2 separate regions of the Homo sapiens genome follow, and region 2 is reported to be linked to region 1. The links are microRNA targets in miRTarBase. Many come from high-throughput screens and were not tested one by one. Region 1 holds a microRNA gene; the other region holds the end of a gene's coding sequence.

Evidence for each region. Region 1 holds the annotated microRNA hsa-miR-6505-5p (UUGGAAUAGGGGAUAUCUCAGC, at 2,500-2,521, shown strand). A microRNA usually pairs through its seed, bases 2 to 8, with sites in the 3' UTR of a target mRNA and lowers its output. Matches are read on the target gene's strand: a 7mer-m8 pairs with bases 2 to 8, a 7mer-A1 pairs with bases 2 to 7 and ends in A, and an 8mer does both.
Region 2: the mRNA of ZNF148 is a reported target of hsa-miR-6505-5p. Seed matches in the 3' UTR shown: 7mer-m8 at 611-617, 7mer-m8 at 1,225-1,231 and 7mer-A1 at 2,819-2,825.

The regions. Positions count from the first base shown.
Region 1 is chr12:48,130,301-48,133,716 of GRCh38, forward strand. It overlaps MIR6505 (microRNA 6505), which reads left to right and starts at 2,497; the gene lies at 2,497-2,567. It overlaps PFKM (phosphofructokinase, muscle), which reads left to right. Exons shown (of 23, transcript NM_000289.6): 3 at 63-136; 4 at 1,016-1,093; 5 at 2,568-2,757; 6 at 3,015-3,180.
Region 2 is chr3:125,229,290-125,232,705 of GRCh38, reverse strand. It overlaps ZNF148 (zinc finger protein 148), which reads left to right. Exons shown (of 9, transcript NM_021964.3): 9 at 1-3,416. The coding sequence ends at 365. Among named protein-coding and RNA genes, the nearest start is that of SLC12A8, 18 kb to the right of the region's middle. RefSeq lists an enhancer at 1-741 and a silencer at 675-875.

The DNA.
Region 1 (3,416 bases):
GATTCCAGGGCGCCTTTTCTTAGGAGCAACCTCTCCGTGACTTCTTTTGTCCCTCCTTTCAGGTATGAATGCTGCTGTCAGGGCTGTGGTTCGAGTTGGTATCTTCACCGGTGCCCGTGTCTTCTTTGTCCATGAGGTTGGTTCTGTACTTTGTTCTTCATCATTCTTTCTCTGTCTTCTTCTAAATCTGCCTTCTATCCCCTTCCCACATTCTGTGTCCTTACCTCCCAGTTAGTTACATTGCTGTGTTTGATTTTCCTTGACTCCGTAGCTTCATGAGTCACTCTTTCCTACTTGACTCCAATAGTGATGGTGGGACCTGAGCATCTACAAACTGGGTCTTCATGTTGCCTGTTCAATTTAAAGGAAAAAGTAACTCTCAGTCCTCCTTTTATCTCCCTCAAAACAGAGAAAGAAATGGAAATGGGTAGTATTTACAGCAAATTTAGTATATCCAGAGGAAGAGCCCCAGGAGAAAAGAGACTTGCTGCATTTCTGTAGTTTGCATAACTTTCTGAGGTTCTCAAATCTTCTTTTGCACCCTTCTCCCAGTACCCTCTCATGCTTCACCCACTCTTCTTTTTATAAGGTCCACCTGCTTTCTTGTATCAGATTTTATAATCTTTTAGAGCAAGTCGCGTTTCTTTCCTTCCCTCCCACCAACTTCCCCTTCTCCTTTTCTCCATGGTTATCAAGACCATCTGTTATCATTGGCCCCCTAGGAAGCAGGTTGGAGGAGATAGGATGAGCCAAAAATAAGAATTAAGATTAACTATTAGGAAGGATATCCACATCCCAGTATTTCAAAAATGGGAGAAAGTAGAAGAGAGTATTGCAAAAGTTGATGCCTCCTTCTTTGGACTGTGTTAAATATGATAGTCTCACGAGCATCCAGGACTCACTAATGGGAGGAGGTGGCTTGACTCTCAGAGAATCTCTTCCCAGGGATCCTGTCTTAATCTTGGGAATTTATAGAGAAGCCTAACGGGCTGAACAGGTATAATGTGTCACACAGGGTTATCAAGGCCTGGTGGATGGTGGAGATCACATCAAGGAAGCCACCTGGGAGAGCGTTTCGATGATGCTTCAGCTGGTATGTTCCAGAGAACTCCCTGTCCCATATTTGCTCTGTCCTTGTTTCATCCCACTCTGTTTTGGGCTCATGGTCTCCTAAATTCCCTGTCATGTGGTTTCATGGGAAGGAATTCAGTGACAAGAGAGGGACCCTATTTGCCCTTTACTCTTAGCATTTGAAAATACCACCCTGGTTTCCTGGGGCAGGGAGAGGGTGGAGGAGTGATCACAGGATGCTTTGCTCTTTATGGAAAGGTCATAAACAAGACTATGGGGACTGACACATAAGCAGATCTTACTCTAGGGTCACAGGGAAGGTCTGGCCCTGAAAATAACCTTACCAGAGGACTGGAGCCAGAGCCAGAAGTGGAGCTGAAATCTGCCAGTCCTCATGTGATGGAGATGAGGTGACCTGAAACCAGACCACTTAAAGGACGAAGGAACTGAGACAGCCTTTCGGAGTCTCAAAAAAATCCTAAGAGTATCCTGAGGATTTCCACAGTCCTTTATGCTACTTGCTCCATGTTGTTTTAGGCTTCTCATGTGTATCCACTGTGGGCTAGCCCACAGTGAGTGAGAGAAATACAATCATTTGCTGGTTTACTGAAAATTTGTAAATTACATTTGTATCCCCCTTTTTTCAGCTCAGTTCCCTAAAAATCCATGGGCAAAAATTTAATATGCAGTGTCTAGTGAAGGCTCTACCTAGGTGCTAAGTAATGGTGCCTGCCATAAAGTGGTCTGAGAATGAGCCAGAATTCTCCACCAGTATCCCAAAGTCATGGCTGCCCAGGAGTACATATGATATGAAAACCTAAGTATACTTACCTCTCTCAGGTAAGTATACTTTCTCTCAGGGATAGAAAGCCTTAATTTCCCAGGGACTTATAGATACCTCTCTTGGGGTATCTATAAGGCTTTCTTTACCTAGAGCTATTTTTCCTGTGAATACCTGGATATTGCAGCTTCTGCTGCTAGCACCATGGATTGCAAGGAGCTAAGGGGAAAGGATTGGCAGTACCTGGGTACAGTTAGAAATCTCAGTGCAGAGAGAGGAAAAATACTACAAAACACATTGGGATGAACTCCTAATAATAATTTGGACACAATCCAGTAATGTCAGGCCATTAGGGAGAATTTCTAAAGACTGAAGTCACTGCTTCTAAGATGTGAAAGTTGGAGATTATTTGAGAAGCCAACATACATGTATGTATTCACTTGTTCTCTTTAGGATAGTCATGGATGACAAAGCCTTCAATGAAAGGAGTTCTTAGCAGTCTTCTCAGATGTGTAGCAAAATATGGGAATGACCCTATGATGCCTCAGCCAGCATCATTTCCCTTTCCTTTGGAAGGGACAGATCACTCTTAAGGATGTCAAGGAACTTTCTAGGGAGTCACACAGTTATGTTAGGCCATCACAGCATTGGAATAGGGGATATCTCAGCATGTTGAGCCCTGTCTCTGGGGAGCTGACTTCTACCTCTTCCAAAGGGAGGCACGGTGATTGGAAGTGCCCGGTGCAAGGACTTTCGGGAACGAGAAGGACGACTCCGAGCTGCCTACAACCTGGTGAAGCGTGGGATCACCAATCTCTGTGTCATTGGGGGTGATGGCAGCCTCACTGGGGCTGACACCTTCCGTTCTGAGTGGAGTGACTTGTTGAGTGACCTCCAGAAAGCAGGTAAGAGAGTTTTCACATCAGTATTGCTTATTTGTGTCGGTACGTGCACGCGTGTACACACACACATCGCCCCCGCCCTGCTTTTACCTCCCATTGGAGAAAAATGTTACCCAGACACAAATAGGCAGTCTTTGCCCTCCTTTTTCTGGTATTGTCTACAATTCCTTTTGGCTAGAGTTTCTCTCTCTCTAGATATCTCCTCTTTAGGCATGCCAGGTGCCTCACCCAGTGGCTCCTGGTTTGCTTCTCATTGTCAGGTAAGATCACAGATGAGGAGGCTACGAAGTCCAGCTACCTGAACATTGTGGGCCTGGTTGGGTCAATTGACAATGACTTCTGTGGCACCGATATGACCATTGGCACTGACTCTGCCCTGCATCGGATCATGGAAATTGTAGATGCCATCACTACCACTGCCCAGAGGTAAGGGGACTTGGGAGGTAGGCAGTGTAAGAAGATGGCAGCTAGGACAGGCTAAAGGGCTAGAAGCTCCTGAAGACTAAAGCGTTTGAGCTATGGTGACTATAATGGCCAGTTTTCTGGGGCTAGAACACTATTTTTAACGAAAAATTATCTAGAGCACTGAAATTGCACTGTTCCCTTAATGATATATGATTTGTCTTTTGCCACTGTCTGGCCCACTGTCCAAATATGCAGCT
Region 2 (3,416 bases), not on the chromosome of region 1:
CCCACTTTGGACTAATAGTTGGTGATTCACAGCACTCATTTCCCTTTTCAGGTGATGAGACAAACCATGCTTCTGCCACATCAACACAGGACTTTCTGGATCAAGTGACTTCTCAGAAGAAAGCTGAGGCCCAGCCTGTCCACCAAGCTTACCAAATGAGCTCCTTTGAACAGCCCTTCCGTGCTCCCTATCATGGATCAAGAGCTGGAATAGCTACTCAATTTAGCACTGCCAATGGACAGGTGAACCTTCGGGGACCAGGGACAAGTGCTGAATTTTCAGAATTTCCCTTGGTGAATGTAAATGATAATAGAGCTGGGATGACATCTTCACCTGATGCCACAACTGGCCAGACTTTTGGCTAAAAAAAAAAAAAAAGTGTAAATAATACTGGCACTTTAGAACAGATTAATCAAGAGTGGGGTTACTCTGTGTAAATGGAGTGCTGTACAGATTTAAGAGCAATGCGTAATAACAAGTTAAGCTGATATGAATAGCAAGATAATCCAATAACTGCATTTCGTTTGGTTAGTCAGCATTCTTTGAACTGCCTTACATGTTGTCACCTTTATAGAAGCAATGCATTACTTGTTTTAGATCAGAAACTTGCTATTCCACCCACACCAAGTTAAAAAGGAAAAAAAAAAGACTTTCGCACAATTGTTTCCTAACTGATAACATTGTACATTCTTAGGAGATTAGTAATTGTGTGAAATTTACTCATACTGTTTCTAAGTTTTTCAGCATAGTCATTGCACTTCAGCAGGGAATCTGAGTATACTTTACAGACAGAGTGAACTTAAAAGTTTAATGTCAAGAGATTATGGCTTAAATAAATTAGTGTGTCCTATAGGGGGAAAAAAACCAAGAAACCACCTTTTAAAAAGAATGATATGCCATATACCCTTGATTTTCATTTTGCATTATATTGACGTGTTTTTTTGAAGGAAAAAAAGTAATAAAAATCTGATAGTCTAAGACTCCACTATTTAAAAGCCTAATTACTTTAAAAATATGCATACTTTCAGAACTTTTACCAAAACACACAACTGTTGAAGCAGTCACTTCTCTATGGAAGTATGCATATTGGTGTCAGTTTCTTTGTACAGTTGTACTTAGATATTTTTTATGATTTTTCATGTGCAGGTATCAAGGTTTTGAAGTTTTAGTAAAAGAAATTCTGTAGATTACATTCCCAAGAACATAATGCTTACACAAAATGTATATTCCACGTTTTAAAGCTTAATTGTATTTTACTTTACATATACACTTCAGTTAACATAGAGCACTTAGAATCTATTTGGTATTTTTGATTTCTCAAAGTAAAAAAAAAATTAGATTTTTAGGTTTGATATGGTTGTGTCATAATCATCTCGTAATTGACAATTTTAACTTTTGGCAATAAAAGGAAATTGGGATATCTTTGGAACTGTAAAACCTGGTTTAATCTTTTTCTTTCTAGACTCTTGATAGATTGGATAATTAAACAGTATCCAGAGAAACTAAAGAAATGGGCATTTTAATTGCATATTTTATCTTGAGTTACTTTTTAATGAACACTGCTCATTACAACTTTACAAACCAAAAGTGTTTACTAATTCCAGTAACTACCATTTCTTTTTCAGCTAGATGAGTGATCGGAAAATTTTTGTTGCATTTCAAAATCTAAATAAACTACAGACTTTATCCTTATACCATGAATGTTTTTTTTTAATACTCTGTCTTAAAATAATACAGCATGGTACAATAAATAGTGCTTTTATGTATATATACACACACACACTTTTCTGAAGAATGATGGTTTGAGTTATGCGTTGGGCAGTTTTGATTTTTGGAAGTTATATTAGTTATTGACTCTTTGTTACAACTTTTTCATTTTTACATTTTAAATTTTCTGCCATCGTTGTCACAATGCACATCCTGATATAGCACCAGTGAAAATCTAAAATTAATACCCTTGGAAAATGAAAATATTCTTAATTTCCATTTTGACTCTTATACTGGCCCTATAGCTCTGCAGTCTTTGTTTCAATATAGAATATGTTATCCATTTAAATTATTTTTTCTTTTATTTAATGTTATCCCAAGACTGTTCTCATAAAGAAAGGGAAGAAATAACTATCCACCCTTAACATCCTTCATTTATTTTGAATATATTGGTGTTTTTATGATAAGGAATATAAATTATATTTAATGTGGTTTCCTGTATACTTTGGTTATTAAGTTTTGCTTGAAATAGTAGTTTTCCCGTTTGACAGCTTTCTTTGCTGCCAAAGTTTTCAAGAATTTAAGACTTCTTTGAAGTAAATATTTAAGTTCTGCCATTATTGACTCTTAAGATTGTGTGTGTTGTGTTGTGCATTACATAATTACAAAAAGGCTTCATTCAGGTGATACGTTAAAAATGGAACTGTGCTCACCCTAAATAGGCATTGGTATTTTTCTCTTTTGGTGAGAGTAGGCATTTATTTCTTGAGTTGTTTTGGAGCCTGATCAAAAATTTTGTTCATGGAGAACTTGATGCAATTTTGATACAGTGGAGAGGTTTTTTTCGGTTGTTTTAACATCACCAGCATAGTTTTTAGAATGTGACTCTTGCTGAGCATTTAGGGTGAGCTTGGGAAGGAAGGCCTTTGAAAATGGTAGTTATGCAAGCAGACTTTCAGGTGTTGCATTCCTGTTTTCAACACATTTCTTTAAATCTACATAATGGCAGACTTTTCTACCAGGTTATAAGCAGTTTTTAGATAAGTGATACTCAGCCAGCATAACTTATTGACTTACCATTTACGTATAGTCATCACTCTCTTACTGTGAAATTCCAAATGCCTACCAGAGTTACCTTGTTCTATCATAATATGACAAACATCTCAACAGTTTTGGATTTCCCCACTTTGGTTCAGAAGGTTATTTAATTTCTATCTGGGCATTAATGGAGAAAATAAGTAGCCTTGTGTGCTGCTTCAGATTGAAACATGGAGGATATGAGATATTCTTCTGCAATTCATGTTTCTCATTTCTCAAAGTGAGCACATTGTTCTATAAAAACATGCTGGTACACCCTTAAACTTTTGATCAATCTGAGTGAGGTGTGCTTTTCCTCTTGGGACCTACTCACGTTTGAAGATTGGAAACATCACGTTAGGCGAGGCAGTATCTCTTGAACATCTTCTAAAGGGTTTTTTAAAACCTTATTCTCACATATTTCATTTGTCTTGAATATTTAAGTGGCTCTTAAACGTTTTGGGTCTACATGCAAATGTGGTACTTAACAAGGTAGGAATCCATCTTCTTAGCTCTGGCTGAGGGTGCCAGCCATCGGTCAGGTCATTTTTATCTCAAGAGGCAGAAGGCAGTTATGTCAAGAATTGTGCTCAGGGCAGGATTTCGTTTCCACAGAGGAGAGACACTTGCAG